4 linked regions of the Homo sapiens genome follow. The protein of the gene in region 4 interacts with the protein of the main gene of each other region in a biochemical or structural test. Each region holds a gene or a part of one and is shown on either strand. Other genes may lie near its edges.

Region 1 (4,466 bases), on a different chromosome or scaffold from region 4:
AGACGGAGCTTCGCTCTTTTGCCTAGGCTGGAGAGCAATGGCATGATCGGGGCTCACCGCAACCTCCACCTCCGGGGTTCAAGCGATTCTCCTGCCTCAGCCTCCCAAGTAGCTGGGATTACAGGCATGCGCCACCATGCCTAGCTAATTTTATATTTTTAGTAGAGGTGGGATTTCTCCATGTTGATCAGGCTGGTCTCGAACTCCTGACCTGAGCCGATCCACCCGCCTCGGCCTCCCAAAATGCTGGGATTACAGGTGTGAGCCACCATGCCCAGACTTTTTTTGAGATGGAGTCTCGCCCTGTCACCCAGGCTGGAGTGCAATGGCACGATCTCAGCTCACTGCAACCTCCGCCTCCTGGCTTCAAATGATTCTCCTGCCTCAGCCTCCCGAGTAGCTGGGATTACAGGCACGTGCCACCATGCCCGGCTGATTTTGTATTTTTAGTAGAGATGGGATTTCTCCATGTTGATCAGGCTGGTCTCGAACTCCTGACCTGAGGTGATCCACCCGCCTCGGCCTCCCAAAGTGCTGGGATTACAGGCGTGAGCCACCGCACCCGGCTCAGGACTATGACTTTTAAAGGGTCTGTGGATAATAGACCTGCGAGGGAGGTAGTGAGGTCAGAAGCAGGAAGAACAGGTTAGGAGGCTGTTGTAGTATGCCAGGTCAGAGCTGATGGTTGCTTGGATCAGAGGTGTAGCAGTGGAATGGTGAGAAACAGTCCAATCATGAGTAGAATTTGAAGTATAAAAAAAACCAATTTGCCAATCAGGCTAGATGTGTGTGGCATATGAAGGAAAAGGTGGATCATTTGGAAAGATGGGTTTGCCAGTAACTGATGTGGGGAAGACTTTATGGGAGGAGCAAAGGTTGGGGATAGGGAGGTCATGTTAAGTTTGGGATGCTTATTAGACATTCAAGAGTGTATATCAAGCAGGTAGTTATAGAGGCAAGAGGCACGATGAGGGGAGAGGTCTGGGCTAGATATGAATTAGGGGAGGCTTCAGCTTATAGAGTGTGTTTAGTATTTAAATTCATTGCATTACATGAGATCACTGTGGAAATGTATAAACAGAGAGGAAGCCCTAGAATAGAGCCCCAGTGCATTTCAGTGTTGCGATGTTGGGAGATAGAAGAAACCAACAAGGAAACTAAAGGAAGCTGCTGCCAGACAAGGAGGAAGAGAGCCATGAGAATGTTTATAGGAAGTTAGATAAAGCTTTGCAAAGAGGAAGGAGACCAGCTGGATAAGATGTCGCATTTAGGTAAGATAAAGATTAAGCACTGGACATTTGATTTAACCTTGTGGAAATCATTGGTGACCTTAACAAACAAGTTAGCGATAACTACAGCTTGATTGGAGGGTATGTTCAAGACAGAAGAGGAGGAGAGAAATTGGAGACAAGCAAAGTAGAGGTTCCTCTTCAAAGACTTTCCTCCCCATCTAATTAGGAATAAATAGTAACTTCTCTTAGAAGCAAAATTTATTCGAAGACCTGTGCAAACATTCTTAAATATTTGCTAGCCATAATAAAGAAATCAATATACTTTATGTTCTTAGCTCCCACAATTTAGCCTAAATATTTGCCCTGGCATGCTTATACTGGTCCAAGCAAGCATTAGGTCATAGCCTGTTCCTCTTCCTTATTTAAAAGTGTTTTTACCTTTCTCAGCATTCCACAAGTTACTTCCTCCTTCCTTTGTTCCCCTCTACCTTTACCTCTTTTAAAAAGTTCTAAGTTGCTAGCCAGTCAGGACAAATACAGAATGTGAGATCCCGTTCCAGCCAGTGGAAACCGGACACAGCAGTAGGGTGGACGCGTCAGGTTATAAATGACCCTGTCTCCTTTGTTCAGTATACTCTTGTGGCAAAACTCCTGGCGAGTGTACCCTTTCTGCAGGAAGTAAAAATGGCTTTACTAAATAAATTAAATTTATGTTCAAGTGCTATTTCTTTATGGTACCGAAGAACAAACATTTCAGAGATCAGTAAGATCTAGTGCTCAAGACCGATTGGCCCTAGCCAAGAGTACGTGACATTTCATCTATACAGGAGAAAAACCAGAGTGTATGGGTGCAGATGCAGGGAAATGTCCAAATGCTACAGTGGGAACTGATGGAAGTATCTAACTTGTCATGAAATAGGAAGCAGGACATCAGCCACAAGTGAGGATGGGGATGGAGATGCTGGAGGTTTGAAGAGAGAAGAGAAATAATAATAATACAATTATTTAGGGGAGAGGGAGAATGATGAAAAAGAGAACTAATGGTATGATTGTTGGGAGTATTAAGGGTTCCTCTGAAGTTAATTGTCAATTTTAGAGTAATCAGCATTGTTAAATATATTTCTTTAGTCCTGTTCAGGTACCTGGGCCTCTTCTTATCTCCTTTCTTTAGTCCGTTACATTTTTCAGAGGGGAGGTTTTCAGTGGGTTTAAAAACTAATTTTTGGCCGAGTGTGTTGGCCCATACCTGTAATCTCAGCACTTTGGGAAGCCAAGGCGAGCAAATCACTTGAGGCCAGGAGTTCAAGACCAGCCTGGCCAACAGGGTGATACCGTCTCTACTAAAAATACAAAAATTAGCTAGGTGTGGTGGCGCACACCTGTAATCCCAGCTACTCAGGAGGCCGAGTTGGGAGGATCACCTGGGCCCAGGGAGGTCGAGGCTGCAGTGAGCCAAGATCTTGCCACTGCACTCCAGCGTGAGTGACAAAGTGAGATCTTGTCTCAAAAACAAACAAACAAGCCAAAAAAAACCACCAAAAAAGCTAATTTTACTTTTTAAATAGCTTGGTTTTGGTTGAGTTTAGAGCAAGTTGCCTTACTTATGTAATCCTAATGTTACTTTATTTTACTTGAGTAAAAAATCAGTTTTATTAAGCTAATTTTATTAACATATTTGTAGACATTTGTAGCCAAAATGTATGATAACATCATTAGTATTCGCTTGCAGTTTCATTCAGCTGGTTGTAATTATTTAAATGGTATTTTTTTGAATTTTGCATTTTATAAGCTAAATCTGTTGGGAGATTGGAGCTGTTCTATTATGCGTAGTTCTAAGAGATGAACTTTCTAATTTTACTTTTGGTGTCTAGCAAAATGACATTTGTTTCACAAATGTGTTTGTTTTTCTGTCATAGGAAACCCAGCGTTTGCTGGCAGAACCAGTTCCTGGCATCAAAGCCGAACCAGATGAGAGCAACGCCCGTTATTTTCATGTGGTCATTGCTGGCCCTCAGGATTCCCCCTTTGAGGGAGGGACTTTTAAACTTGAACTATTCCTTCCAGAAGAATACCCAATGGCAGCCCCTAAAGTACGTTTCATGACCAAAATTTATCATCCTAATGTAGACAAGTTGGGAAGAATATGTTTAGATATTTTGAAAGGTAAGTGTTATCTTTATCAGCATATGCTATTATTAAGCTTTCTCCTTTTTCTCTTAAGCATTCCATGTTTAGAATGTAAACATTATACAAAGATCAGAGAGGTCTGTGGGAGGGAAGTGAAGCAGTTCTGGGCCTGTTTTTTTCATGCTTTATCATACTGGGCCTGTTGCCTTCATAGATAAGTGGTCCCCAGCACTGCAGATCCGCACAGTTCTGCTATCGATCCAGGCCTTGTTAAGTGCTCCCAATCCAGATGATCCATTAGCAAATGATGTAGCGGAGCAGTGGAAGACCAACGAAGCCCAAGCCATAGAAACAGGTATCTAATATTCATTCTCCTTCACACCACTTCCACTTTTACAAATTTGTATTACCACTTAAACTTTTCTAAAGCTCTTGGCAAGGAAAAGAAATAGAAAAAAGTATAATAAGTGAGATCCTGCTTATAGTATGTAAATACGTCTTAACAAAATGGCTTGCTATGGGACCCCCCAAATATAAAGACAACCTGTAATTGAAAGATCTTGGAGTCTCTTGTAACTACACCTGGTTTAACAAATACTGAGTGCATACCATTTATCTAGTTATATGTAAAGAATACTGGAAAACTTGAACTGTTTTTGTAACCCATTTGATTAAAGTATTCAGCTGTTTATGGCTACGGAATTTGGAGTCAAGAAGCTTCTGCTACAGATTTTAAGAAAATTAGTGGGGAGAATTGTGTATCTAGAAATGGACAACTTGATTCATCCTCTTGAATTTTCTAGAACTTCTTAATTTTATTGTAGTGTTTTGGTAATTGGACATTTACAAAATCTTTCAGCCCTGATCCAATTTATAGAAAAAGGCGTGAATTTAACAGATTACAGCATGACATTTCCATAATTAATAGTGGTTGTTTGCCATTTATAGTTTGGAAAGTAACATATTGAACTAAGTAAAATAATAATCGTATGTTTGTTTCTGTCTACAGCTAGAGCATGGACTAGGCTATATGCCATGAATAATATTTAAATTGATACGATCATCAAGTGTGCATCACTTCTCCTGTTCTGCCAAGACTTCCTCCTC
Region 2 (4,466 bases), on a different chromosome or scaffold from region 4:
CAGCCAGCTCTGCCCAAGAACCTGGCAGGGGGAACAGCTTCCCTCATGAGAGAGCAAAGGCTGGGAAAGTCAGTCCGATGGAACTCAGGCCAAGACCCTGAGTCCCCCAGGACAGGTGCCACTGGGCCAACCTGCTCCCCAGGAGGCTGCTGCTAGACACCTCCTGCAAGAGAAAAAAGGTGGAGGCGGAGCCTCACTTGGAAGGCGGAGCCTCAGGCTGGAGGGAGGAGCCTCGGCTGCCGCAGGAACCACCGACAGCACCTTCCTCCCTCCTCCACTTCCTCCATCCTCACCTGGAAGCACAGCCCCTCCAGCCTAACCTCACTAAGTCCCAGGGCTGCAGATGGGAGGGGAAAAGCAGCCAGTTCCCCTTCCCCCTACCCCCATCAACGCTGCCTCCCTGGGCAGGGGAGCGGGGGCCAGCTGGCACCCAATGGACTGAAGCGTGCCAGAGAAGGGCCCTCAGGCCACAGCAGGGGCCAGGCAGGTTGCTGGGTCAGCAGGGTGGGAGGGGGCATGCACAGGGTTCTGAACCTCGTGGCCTTGGTCCTGTTCCCTGCTGCGTGCCCACGCCTGGTGCCCATCACGCACCCACCCAGCAGGCGCTCCGATGTTTACTGTGCGAAGGAAAGAGTGGGGGCAGGGGAGGGGAGGCAGGAAGAAGAGACGGAGAGACCTCCAGGCACACAGAGGACTTGGTGAAATCTGAGCGCCTCAAGGCACAGGTCCGCAAAGGCCCAGGACGTTCCGCTCCCTATCTGGGAGTCCCAGAGGCTGCACACTCTCTCTGCCCTGGGGGCTGGGGCTGCGGAGGCCTCCCTGGCCCTGAGCTCAGGGCTATGGCTGAGGCAGAGACTGGGCTCAATGCCCACCTGCAGCCTGAATGGCCACGGCTGCTGGGGAGGCACCAGGGGCCTGTCCACACTGCTGTGGGCTATGAGGTCCTGACACACAGTTCCTGCTCAGTCAGTGCTTGCAGACAAAGACACGAGAGAGAGAAGCGTGGAGCCCAGCACCTCTCCTCCGCCTGGGATCGCCCTGAACCCCCAGCACGCCCGGTGCACACAGCCTGGCAGTGACCTGAGCCCACTGACCAAGGACACTCCTGCAGGCTGCCAGCGAGGAACCAGAGCCCGGGGGAAGGATGCCACTGGCCAGCCCCCTTTCCAAGGGGAATAAGCAGGGAAACCAGGCTCCCAGGTGGCCCTGGTCACCCCTGGCCCTGGCAGTCACAGCCTGGTGTGGTCCCTGCATGCGCCACAGAGTCTGTGTGAGCAACGGACTCTGTGGGGGAGATGGCGAGGCGTGTCCGAGGTTGGGTTATAAAAAGGGCTCCAGCTCCCAGCTTGGAGGTGCACACTCGCTACCCTAGGGTGAGGGAGCCACCAGGCTGAGGACGCCCAGGCAATCCGTGCAGGAGTCCGCACCATGAGGACCTGGGGACTGTGGCCAAGAGCTGGCGAGGAGCTGAGGCCTGCCAGCCACCACACAAGGATGTGCCTGCTCCAGCCCTGGTCGAGCCTCCAGATGAGGTGGCTCCAGCCTGACTGAGCCTCATGAGAGCCCCCAAGCCCCAATGCCCCGCAACACAGCTCACAGGTTCCTGAGAGCTAACAGACGCCCCCTGCTTCCAGTGGCTCCATTTCGGGGTAACTTGTAACACAGCAAGGGGTGACCAATATCAAAGATGGTCCCTTTGCTTCCGAGGAAGGACACCCCTGGCCACTGTGGCTCCCCGCCCTGGCTGCGCCACAGAGAACATCACTCGAAGTCGGCTGTGTGGCTGGGCTGGGCTGGGCGACGGGGCCTAGGTGAAGCCTCCAGTCGCAGCCTCCCCAGGGTGACCACTCACCTAATTCGGTGGGCTTCAGCAGCTCATCCAGCATATTAAAGAACGGCAGCTTCACCAGGCGGACTTCTGGCTTGAGGGTCTTGGCGGGCAACCGTCCCAGTCCGTTTAAGTACTTTCCGTAGAGCACGGGGTAGTCAATATTGGGGCCTGCCAGCGGAGTCCTGGGCACAGCGCCGGCCCGGTCGTAGGTGGAGTGCATGGTCAGGGGGTCCAGGGGCCGGTGCGGCTGTGGGGCAGGCTCCGAGTTCTTCTTGGCGTAGCGGGTCTCGTACAGCTCCTTGATCTTCTTGAACAGCTCAGGGCTACAGTCAAACTGCACCAGCTGGAGGGCCCTGGTGACGAGCTCGTGCTTCAGTCCACTCTTACTCCGGCCCACGAAACCCAGGAGCATCTGAAGGTCGGAGACTCGAAAACTCATCACCATGTTCTGAGGAGGAGCAAGCACACACACACTCAGAGGACACAGCTGCGAGGCAGGGGACTCCATGGAGGCCAGGCCCCGATGTGGGGGCCGTGAAAGACACCCACTCGCCAGGAAGCGCCAGCCTTGGCTGGGGCTGGTGGAGTGCCCTGCCCCTACGGTGCCCCCTCCCAGCAAAGCCCTGCCCCCTCCCTCCTCCTCATCAAACTTTCCCCAGCATCGCCAACGCAGCAAAAGCGCCTCTGACTAGGCCCCCCCTTCTATTTTAGGTTCTCTTTCCCTGTCTTCAGCCTGAAAGCATCCCCAGGGCAGGAACTGACAATTGTGCTTTACTTGTAAACAGCCTCTGCCAGTGCCTTACCGGCAAACACCAAATGCCTCTCTGACCCTCAGTCTCTACGTCGGGAGGATAATGACATAAAGCACTGGCTGGGCGGGCGCTCAACCCATGTCAGCCACAGATATGTTTTCCCTTCGGTCTCGCCAACGGTAGCCACAGTTTACTTAGTACTAATCACCTGCCGGGAACCAAGCCGGTCATGTGATTATATATTTAACTCTGATCCTTAAAACACCCCTGCTAGGCTGGTGTGTGAGCTCTGTCACAAATGAGGAACTGTCGGCTCAGAGGTGGCAGCGCCAAGATTCGAACCCAGGCCTGGCTCTGAAGCCAGGGGCGGTTCTTGCTGCCACACTACCCTCTGGATGTCAACACAGGGCTGGGCCTGTGGGGGCCTCCGAAACATCTGCTGATCATCCCAGGCAGGGTTTCTCCTCCTTGGCCCTGTGGACACTGGGGCCATCCTGGGCTCTGTGTGGTGCTAAATACCCACAGCTCACGACAACCAAACACACCTCCACACCCCACACACCTCCACACCCCACACACCTCCACACCCCACACACCTCCACACCCCACACACCTCCACACCCCACACACCTCCACACCCCACACACCTCCACACCCCACACACCTCCACACCCCACACACCTCCACACCCCACACACCTCCACACCCCACACACCTCCACACCCCCCACACCTCCACACCCCACAGCTCCACACCAAACACACCTCCACACCCCACACACCTCCACACCCCACACACCTCCACACCCCACACACCTCCACACCCCACACACCTCCACACCCCACACACCTCCACACCCCACACACCTCCACACCCCACACACCTCCACACCCCACACACCTCCACACCCCACACACCTCCACACCCCACACACCTCCACACCCCCCACACCTCCACACCAAACACACCTCCACACCAAACACACCTCCACACGTTGCCCTGAGTCCCTGGGGGACCGGTCCAAGGGGAAGATAGCAGCCACAGGGGCTGTTGCAGGACCTGGGTCAAAGCGACAAATGAGGCTTGGCAGGACCTGGCCCTCATCGCCTGGCCGGGCCTCTCCAGCGAAATAAAAACCAAACAGCAGAGCCCAGCTGACCCTGGTGTTTGAGGTGGGGTAGACTGGCAGTGGCCTGACCTCCATGAGGGGTAGGACCCTGAAGGGGAAGGAAGGCTCCTCAACAGGCTGCAGAAGCCAGGTGTCCTCGAGGGATGGGCTGGCAGGGTTTCAGGGCCACCCACCCTTAGCCCTGAAGCTGGCCTGGGATGAATGAGATGTGGTGGGAAACAGTAGCTTCCAGGAGGAATGGGGAGAAAGCTCAAGCGTCAAGGGTGTTAAGGAAAGCTGGCGGGTACCCGAAGAAACCAATAAACCATTCAAACTCCACTCGAAAGACCCTGAGGGTCGAAGCCAGAGGCAGTCCCAGTGGGGTATGTAAACTGCAGCCTCCGTGCCAGGAGGCGCTGAGGTTTCCGGCTCCTGGCTGCCCCAGGGTGAGACCAGGAGCCTAGCCGCACATTTCAGCACCAAAGCTGCAGCAGCCGGGGCCCACTGTCGGGTCCTCATCTGTCAGCTCTGATTTCTTCCAGCTGTATCGGGCCAGGGTCCTGTTGGAGACGGAGAGGCTGTCCAGGCTCAAAATGACAGGGACACACGTGCAGGCGGCCCAGCCCTGCCCAAAGAGCCTCGGGAGAAGCCTCTTCCCATATCAGGGCTGCGGGGCCCCGTGACTGTAAAGAATCGGGATGCCAGCGTCTTGCTCCCTACCAGGCACCAGCAAGGCCTGTGTCGCTAATTTCACAATGAGGACACCCATCGTGTA
Region 3 (4,466 bases), on a different chromosome or scaffold from region 4:
TAACAGATTGGCAAAAATGTAAAGGATCATGTGTATATTCATTGCAGTGTTGCTTGTAATAGCATACAGCTTGAGTGACCTCCAGTAGAGGTGATGTTTAAATATATTTTGCTGCATTCTTAAAAGGAAATGTAGCATAATGCAGCCATTTGGAGAGAATGAGATAACTATATGCACTCTCTTTGAAAGTTTTGTGACTACTATGTGCCGGGAGTTGCACTGGGCTTTCTTTAAGGTATTTTCAGCAAACCTGTCTTTTAATGATTTATATTGTACCTAATAAGAGATATATGAATGGAAAAACAGTTTTTGCTCTCACATCATGACAATCAACACAAAAGACTTCTGTGACCAAATGTGTGGAGTTTTCTTCCACCAACAAGCAAGCAATCAATTCTGCAGCGGACACCAGCTGGGTATCATCTAATTCAATTCTGACACTGTCTACTTGGAGATAGGGTCAGATCCCTTAGGTTTAGGGCTTAGTCCTGCAAGAGGGACCCCCATTTCTGATGCCAATCCAAGCCCTAAGTTGTTTTACCTGTGCTTCTGACTGACCAGCTACACATGAGGAATCCTATTAATACACACCTTGGGGTGTATTAATTTGCTAGAGGAGCTAACAAAACTGAGGGAAACATGTTTTCCAGTTTATTATAAAGATATTACAGAGACCCTGGGCAACATGGAGAAACCCTGTCTCTACTAAAAATACAAAAAATTAGCCGAGCGTCATGGCTTGCAAGTGTAGTCCCAGCTACTTGGGAGGCTGAGGTGGGAGAATCACCTGAACCTGAGAAGTCTAGGCTGCAGTGAGCCATAATTGTACCATTGTCCTCCAGCCTGGGCAACAGGAGTGAGATCCTGTCTCCAAAAAAAAATACTAGGATACAAATGAAGAGATGCATACTGTGAAGTATGGGAAGGGGCACAGAGCTTCCATGTCCTCCCTGCCTGTGATATCCAGGAAATTCCTCCAGGAACTTCCACATGTTCAGCTATCCAGTAGCTCTTTGTACCCCATCCTCTTGAGCCTTTTATGGAGATTTCAATGGATAGGCATGACTGAAGCATGGACAATCATTTTGGAAATGTGATTGGACAAAAAAGATATGATCTGATACTAACAGACTGAGTGGGGAAACCCAGCAAGGCCTGTCTGCTCAGATTCTTCTTGGCTTCTCTGTTCAGCATTCCTTCCAGGATATAGGGCAAGACCCATTCTGAAACAGGGGTCTTATGACCTACAGCTAGACAAGATAGGTCAGAGAAAGGCAGGGATGATTAGAGTTCTGCTTTGGAGAGAAGGAGCAGGTGAAAGGAGGAGAGGAGGAAGTCAGAAATAGATTCTGTTTTCTGAGGCCTAAAGCACCCTAACATAACAAGACTGTAACAAAGGCTATGGGAGTTATGAGCCAGAAACTGTGGACAAAAACATATATATGTATATGTATATATGTATGTATGGAAATGATCACACGCTCTATCTACTTCATAGCCCTGTTGTGAGGATTACACAAGACAGTGTATAGTATATTAACATAGTGCTTAGCTTATATTAAACAGTTGATACATGTTAGCTTTACTATAAATAAGGAAATACGCTTTTATTATATAAGGATATCTTTGAGCTTCAAATGCTTTAAAACTTTTTTTTTTTAGAGACAGGGTCTTGCTTTGTTGACCAGGCTAGTCTTGAACACCAATTCTCAAGCGATTCTTCAGCCTTAAACTTTTTTTACATAGAGAAAGTTTTAGCAACAAATTAGGATGTGGACCTTGTTTTTTAATGTTAGGAGAATTGATTTTATTCAATATACTATTTACTTATTTATTAATTATTATTATTATTATTTTGAGACAGAGTCTAGCTCTGTCACTCAGGCTGGAGTGCAGTGATGTGATCTCAGGTCACTCAACCTCCACCTCCTAGGTTCAAGCTATTCTGCCTCAGCCTCCTGAGTAACTGGGATTACAGGCACGCGCCACCATGCCCAGCTGATTTTTTGTATTCTTAGTAGAAATGGGGTTTCACCATGTTGGCCAGGCTGGTCTTGAACTCCTGACCGCAAGTGATTCACCCACCTTGGCCTCCCAAAGTGCTGGGATTATAGGTGTGAGCCACTGCCCCTGGCCTTATTCACTATACTATTTAGAAGCAATCTTTGATTATCTTATATTTATGTAACATTTCTGAGCATTAGTGTGTTGAAGGTCAGTGCTTCACTAGGAGGGCTCACAGGACTCAGAATATAGTGTACTTACAGCTATGATTTATTACAGTGAAGGGAAATAAAGCAAAATCAGCAAAGGGAAAAAGCATATTGGGGGAAATCAGGTACAAACTTCTGAGTTCTCTCCCAGTGGAGTTACGTAGGATATGCTTAATTCCTCCAGCAACCAGCTATGACAACATGTTTGAAGTGTTGTCTACCAAGGAAGCTCAACTAGACACTCAGTGATCAGAATTTTTATTGGAGGATGGCCACATAGGCACCCTCTGTATAGGTACTCTCGACTGGCATGTACCAGAATTCTAAGACTCCTGGAAGGAAGGCGGGTATTCAGCATGAACCACATTGTTTTTCATAAACAGTTTTAGGCACAGGGAGCCACTCTTACCAGAGAATGGCAGAAACCCTCCTGAAATCTAAGTTCTAGATGCCAGTCAAAGGCCAACCTTGTAAGCACACCTTTGAAAGTATAGTAGTCTTAGGCCTGTCATGTTAGCTCTTTTTTGCAGTTCTTCTTGTGTGATTAAAGGAAGTTAATTCCTATCCTAGAATTATTGTGCAGATTAGAGAGAGAATGTGAAGCTCCTATCACAGTTCCTGACTCTTAGTGAGTGCACAATAAACAATACCTGCTATAGCTGTTACATGTGAGGTATAGGAATCTTGAGCTCTTTTACACTGGTTAGAAAAACCAGTTTTCTATAAGGAAGAAATGAAAAAATCTACATTCTGCCTCTCAAACAAGGCAAGAAAAGCTGTTTTTATTTATATTGAAATTATATTTCAAACATTATTTAGGTAGTGAACATTTCCTGGCTTTTTGACCTTTATTCTCTGATTCTGTTAAAATATAGGTAATAAGAGAAATGAAGCCAACAGGTACAGACCCAAGGATCTTATCTATAGCTGCTGAAGTTGCAAAAAGCCCTGAGCAGAATGTCCCTGTTATACTGTTGAAGTTAAAAGGTAAGAAAATCTTTTTGTGATTAGATAGCATTTTAAGTGAAAAATGGTTCCATCGTTGGTACAATTTTAACATTTCTTTTAAATTTGTTCAGAGAGGTCTTAACACTATAATAGAACAGTAATTTTTCCTTCTAATATATTTTTAGTGATTATTCAACATATAAAAATACAAATAGCTCCTGGATGTATTAAGCAAAAATAAATATATCTTATTTCCTTTTGCCTTAGAAATAATAAACATCACACCTTTAGGAAGCTCAGAGTTGAAGAAAATCAAACAAGATATATATTGTTATGATCTCATTCAATATTGCCTCTTGGTCCTCAGTCAAGATTATTCTCGAATCCAGGGTGGTTGGACTACAATTTCCCAGCTTACACAGATATTAAGGTAAAATAAAGCAGTAAGTCAGCTGTTCTTGAGGGATGTAGTAGTTGATTCTGATTTTCAACATTTGCTTTTTATTTATCTGCCTAACAAGCATTGGCAACCTCCTGTTGTAGGTTTTGGTTGTACTTTTCCTTCATATTATATGTTATTATTCATAATTTTACTTCAGATTATTTGACTGTCTAAAATTTTCCTCCACAAGCTTAATGAAGATGGTGATCATTTTTTTTCTCACCACTGAATTCCAAGTGCCTAATATACTTTTTATTGATTAAGGAATTTTTAAAGAAGTGAAGAAATTAAGGCACTGGCTCTGTACCTGAGAAACTTAAAATAGAGATTGGGTGACAGTCATGTAAGTATATGATACAAAGCAGAATGAAATCAGTGCTAAAATGAAAGTATGCAAGCAAGTACTATAGGAGAACTGATAAAGAAACATTTTATTTCACTATATCAATGTAGCTATCAACTGTGTATTTCATTAAGCAACCCAAATACTGTCAATAAAATTTAGAAGTAGAATTTACTGATCTACTGCCATGCTAGAAATTAATAGAAGAGAAATAAACATTTTTTAAAGGAGGTAGTAAAATAAACCAGATGTTCTTAGTGCCTAAGCTACTTCCTGATTAATAAGTGAAAGTGTGTATTTACTAACTGGATCCTAGCCTTCTTTTTTTGTTTTTCCTAAATAAGCCATTTGAATTTAATAAGCTATTCCCACTGAAAGGGTTTGTCTTGGATGCTAGATTTCTAAGCTGCTTAATCCTACTGTGTTACTTGGTAAAGGCCAAATTTAAAGCACACAGTTACAAAGAACAGTTGAAAAATATATGTGATATTCTTTTTCATACTTTAATTTTCAAGATTGA
Region 4 (4,180 bases):
AAGGGTGGGGGCTATAGTGTCCTTATTCGAGAGGGACTTACCTGTCCGGTGGGCATAGCCCTAACTCCTAAGGGGCAGCTGCTGGTCTTGGACTGTTGGGATCATTGCATCAAGATCTACAGCTACCATCTGAGAAGATATTCCACCCCATAGGGGATGAGAAATTATCAGTTTCTTCTGCTCCCAAGCCAACTTCCCTTCCCTTAGTTCTTGGTTGTTAGTGGCACATGCAGAATAGACTCAGCCTATGTCCTGATTCCAGCTGGGTAGTTCTAGAACTTCAGAAGCTCCATCTTTTAATGTTTTTATTTGTTATGTCCCCCTCCCCGCTTCCCACCTAAATTTAGAGCTTTAAAAGATGCACTGCCCAAATAGGACACACGATGGTGTTAGCTGAAGTTTGATTAGCAATTAGGCACTTCCAAGGCTTTAGTAGAGAGAGCCACTTTAGCCCTTTGTGCCATGTTTGAAATTTGCCCTTGTATTAAATCCTTGATTTTTTCCCATTTGGCTTTGATGCCCTTGATCCATTGTTTCCTTCCTACTATAATGTGCTTCATCTGTGACACTTTCTCTTGAACTCTGATTGGATTCACTGTGCATGCTTCAGTGGGATCTGCTCCACCTTTCAGTGACATTTAAGACATCATATTCCCGTAACATTATGTCTCAGTCTGATCGTCTTTACCAGTATGAAAGTCATTCATTTAGTGCTACCAAAGGGGATACACAAGCCCTTTAGGAAGCAGTACCTCTCGCCTGGAGGATCTGTGCCATCTTGGATTGAGAATTGCAGATGTGACAGAATGGATTGACCCTAGTTGGTTGGTATTGATGACTTCAGCCTGGAAATTGCTTGCCTTTTAAAGAAGCATATATGGGTTGGAATTATGCCAAAGCATAGGAAGCTGGGAATAAGCAAACAAATGCTGATATAGTCAGCAAATTTGGATAGTCTCTAGGGCTCATCATTTTTCATACTACCTCTCTCTTCTGGCCTGTGTCTAAGGAATTGTACAACATAGGCCAGGGCCAACAAAGTGGAGAGGTGGACACATTTTCATGTTCATTACTAAAACAAACAGCAAAACTATTGGTTTGTTATTCTGTGTTTTCCTCAAGTCAGTACATACTATTTGGTTTCAGGATTTCTTTCCATTTCTCTATCAAGCATTAAATAATTGAGAACTGTTTCTTCATCTCTGGTGTTCATGTCTTTTAATTAAATACGGAATTTTGGAGATGATAAGAGGGATAACCTGCGCTATGCCATTTTGCTTCCTTATCTCACTGTGTTCTTTCAGAGTGTAGATATCTACCCAGGTCAAAATTCAGCCAAAAGCACTATTATGTAAAGATAATAATCCAAATCTTTCTCCCAAATACATGTGTACAGAATCATCCCCCAAGGTTTAGAGTCACCAATACCCTATTCTGAGCTTCTGCTGTATGTTTTATGTTTATAATTACAGTTCACAAAAAGGAAGTTAGTCTTGTTTTTAAGATCAGAAGTGGGTGAGAGGACCTGTGATGAGGTTCCTGAGGGTTTGGTGTTTACTAAGTAATATATCTTACTCTAGGTGCAGGGCTGATGGCAAGCCAAAGAGCAACTGCCTTACTTTGATGTAAACAAAATTTGCTAAACTGAGCTGCTCAAAATTGTTTTTATGGTAGTAGTGTTTCTTTGGATTGTATCATAATAGCTGCCAAAGGATAGGTAAAGAGGTCATTAAAATGATGTTGAACTAGTTTGTCTTGTTCTTTTCATCTGGAGAAAGCCCCATATTCTGATTATGAAATTGCATCCGATTTTCAAAGATTGGGTAATTGAGAGGAAATTGATCCAATTGAAAGTGCATCACAAATGACTCCACTAGTTATTAGAGCCACTTTATCTGTGGGGGCACCCAGCAGCAGGAGATCTGTCTTTGCTGTCAGTGGGGGACTTGCTGAGGCAATAACAGTGGCTCAGGCCTTTGGCACACAGTTTGCAGTGGAGAGAGAAATATAATATTGTGGGCAGGCTGAAGGTAAATGAGGCCAGGAATCCTCCAGCTGTCTGTGCTTTTGAAAGAGGTGCCATCACTGAGTGACATTCAGCATTTAGATCTCTACCCATCTAAACCAGTCATGCCTTTTCCCTCAAGTAAAGCAGTTATCTGTTGGCTCAAAATGGAAGTGTGATCTGAGTCTTTTTCCTTTTTCCCCTTTGATGTGAATATTTTAGGCTGTGCTTAGTACAGTCGATGTTTAATTATCTGCTGTGTTGACTAAATTGCAGACTAGGGCCCCAAGAAACTAATTTGTTCAATTACAGCAGTTTTTTGGGTTTTTTTTTTTTTTTTGCTTTGTTTTTTAAAGCAGCAGTACCCTTGTCCAAATAAAGTCTTATATGGAAGTCTATCATGTAAAATAGATCAAAGAGCAGCTGCTCTGGTTGAAGCAGGTTTGTGCCGCTGAAGAATATGCTGTTTCCTCCCTTTACCTTACCTCCTGTGCTACCATTGCAAAACTTGTGAATCTACAGAATACTTTTCTGAAAACCACTGAACTACAGCATTGCTTACCTTATAGTTCTGTCTTATTAGTCATGTGGCCTTGGGCAAGTCATTTAACTCTTCCTCTTCTGGAAAATAACAAAAATGATCCCTGCCTCCTAGAAGGGTATGAGATAACATGTGAAAATAACCTGGTTTCATTCCTGGAATATTCCATAAATGATGGCTGTTACTCTTTTATCTAGTTGCTCAAAAGAGCACCTGATGGTGGGAAGTGGTCCAACCATGCTAAACAGTTCCTTTCTTCTTGCTTAACAGGTTTCTATTTGGTGATTAAAACCTTTCTCAGGCATTTCTTTCCCCTCACAAGTCTCCAAATATATCAAGTTCATCTCTTCCTTTCTACTGTCTATTTCACATTCCTATTATATAAATCACTGTGTTGCAATTATCTGTCCATATATTTGAGCTTTATTGAGGGCTAACTAATCTAGCTACCAGCATGTAACATGGTGCCTAGTATAGAATATGTTATCAGTTATTTAATTGGTTCAGGTATTTACCTGACTTAATGGGACTCCAGTAACCCGAGTCTTCCTAGTGTAGCCCCCTTAGATTAGATAAAAAAGGATACTCAGACAAGCCCTTTTATAAGGTGTTTAAAAGCTAGTGGCAAACAATTGACTTAGAGGTTGGTTAAGCCCCTCCTCCCTTTATCATTCTGAGTGGTTACATAGAATTTAAGATTTTGGAGCAATGATTCATTCAATATTTATTAACTACCTACTGTGGGCCAGTGTACACTCCGGACTTGAGTCTGTAGAGGGGCACTCTTATTCCAATCAGTAGAATAAACGTGGCGTGAGCTTTACAGTGTTCCTCTGGGTAAGGCAAGTAATGCTTAAGTAGTTGTACTTTTAATCTAGTGCTAATTAATGGCCTCTTAAAAGTGCAGTGTTGGGTCAAATGGTATTTCTAGTTCTAGATCCCTGAGGAATCGCCACACTGACTTCCACAATGGTTGAACTAGTTTACAGTCCCACCAACAGTGTAAAAGTGTTCCTATTTCTCCACATCCTCTCCAGCACCTGTTGTTTCCTGACTTTTTAATGATTGCCATTCTAACTGGTGTGAGATGGTATCTCATAGTGGTTTTGATTCGCATTTCTCTGATGGCCAGTGATGATGAGCATTTTTTCATGTATTTTTTGGCTGCATAAATGTCTTCTTTTGAGAAGTGTCTGTTCATGTCCTTCGCCCACTTTTTGATGGGGTTGTTTGTTTTTTTCTTGTAAATTTGTTTGAGTTCATTGCAGATTCTGGATATTAGCCCTTTGTCAGATGAGTAGGTTGCGAAAATTTTCTCCCATGTTGTAGGGACATGGATGAAATTGGAAACCATCATTCTCAGTAAACTATCGCAAGAACAAAAAACCAAACACCGCATATTCTCACTCATAGGTGGGAATTGAACAATGAGATCACATGGTCACAGGAAGGGGAATATCACACTCTGGGGACTGTGGTGGGGTGGGGGGAGTGGGGAGGGGTAGCATTGGGAGATATACCTAATGCTAGATGACGAGTTAGTGGGTGCAGCGCACCAGCATGGCACATGTATACGTATGTAACTAACCTGCACAATGTGCACATGTACCCTAAAACTTAAAGTATAATAATAA

The links.
Region 1: the proteins of TRIM32 (region 4) and UBE2N form a complex in vitro, tested with the Homo sapiens proteins (one study listed by BioGRID).
Region 2: of the proteins of TRIM32 (region 4) and PIAS4, one has a biochemical effect on the other in vitro, tested with the Homo sapiens proteins (one study listed by BioGRID).
Region 3: the proteins of TRIM32 (region 4) and IQCB1 form a complex in vitro, tested with the Homo sapiens proteins (one study listed by BioGRID).

Annotation. Positions count from the first base shown.
Region 1 is NC_000012.12:93,409,982-93,414,447, reverse strand, and holds part of UBE2N (ubiquitin-conjugating enzyme E2 N), read left to right. Parts: intron 1-3,148; coding exon 3,149-3,395; intron 3,396-3,573; coding exon 3,574-3,714; intron 3,715-4,368; coding exon 4,369-4,409; 3' UTR 4,410-4,466. UniProt on the Homo sapiens protein: The UBE2V1-UBE2N and UBE2V2-UBE2N heterodimers catalyze the synthesis of non-canonical 'Lys-63'-linked polyubiquitin chains. This type of polyubiquitination does not lead to protein degradation by the proteasome.
Region 2 is NC_000019.10:4,010,736-4,015,201, reverse strand, and holds part of PIAS4 (E3 SUMO-protein ligase PIAS4), read right to left. Parts: intron 2,280-4,466; coding exon 1,853-2,279; intron 1-1,852.
Region 3 is NC_000003.12:121,827,595-121,832,060, reverse strand, and holds part of IQCB1 (IQ calmodulin-binding motif-containing protein 1), read left to right. Parts: intron 1-3,088; 5' UTR 3,089-3,100; coding exon 3,101-3,200; intron 3,201-3,428; coding exon 3,429-3,591; intron 3,592-4,466. UniProt on the Homo sapiens protein: Involved in ciliogenesis. The function in an early step in cilia formation depends on its association with CEP290/NPHP6.
Region 4 is NC_000009.12:116,699,552-116,703,731, forward strand, and holds the end of TRIM32 (E3 ubiquitin-protein ligase TRIM32), read left to right. Parts: coding exon 1-153; 3' UTR 154-1,748; downstream 1,749-4,180. UniProt on the Homo sapiens protein: E3 ubiquitin ligase that plays a role in various biological processes including neural stem cell differentiation, innate immunity, inflammatory resonse and autophagy.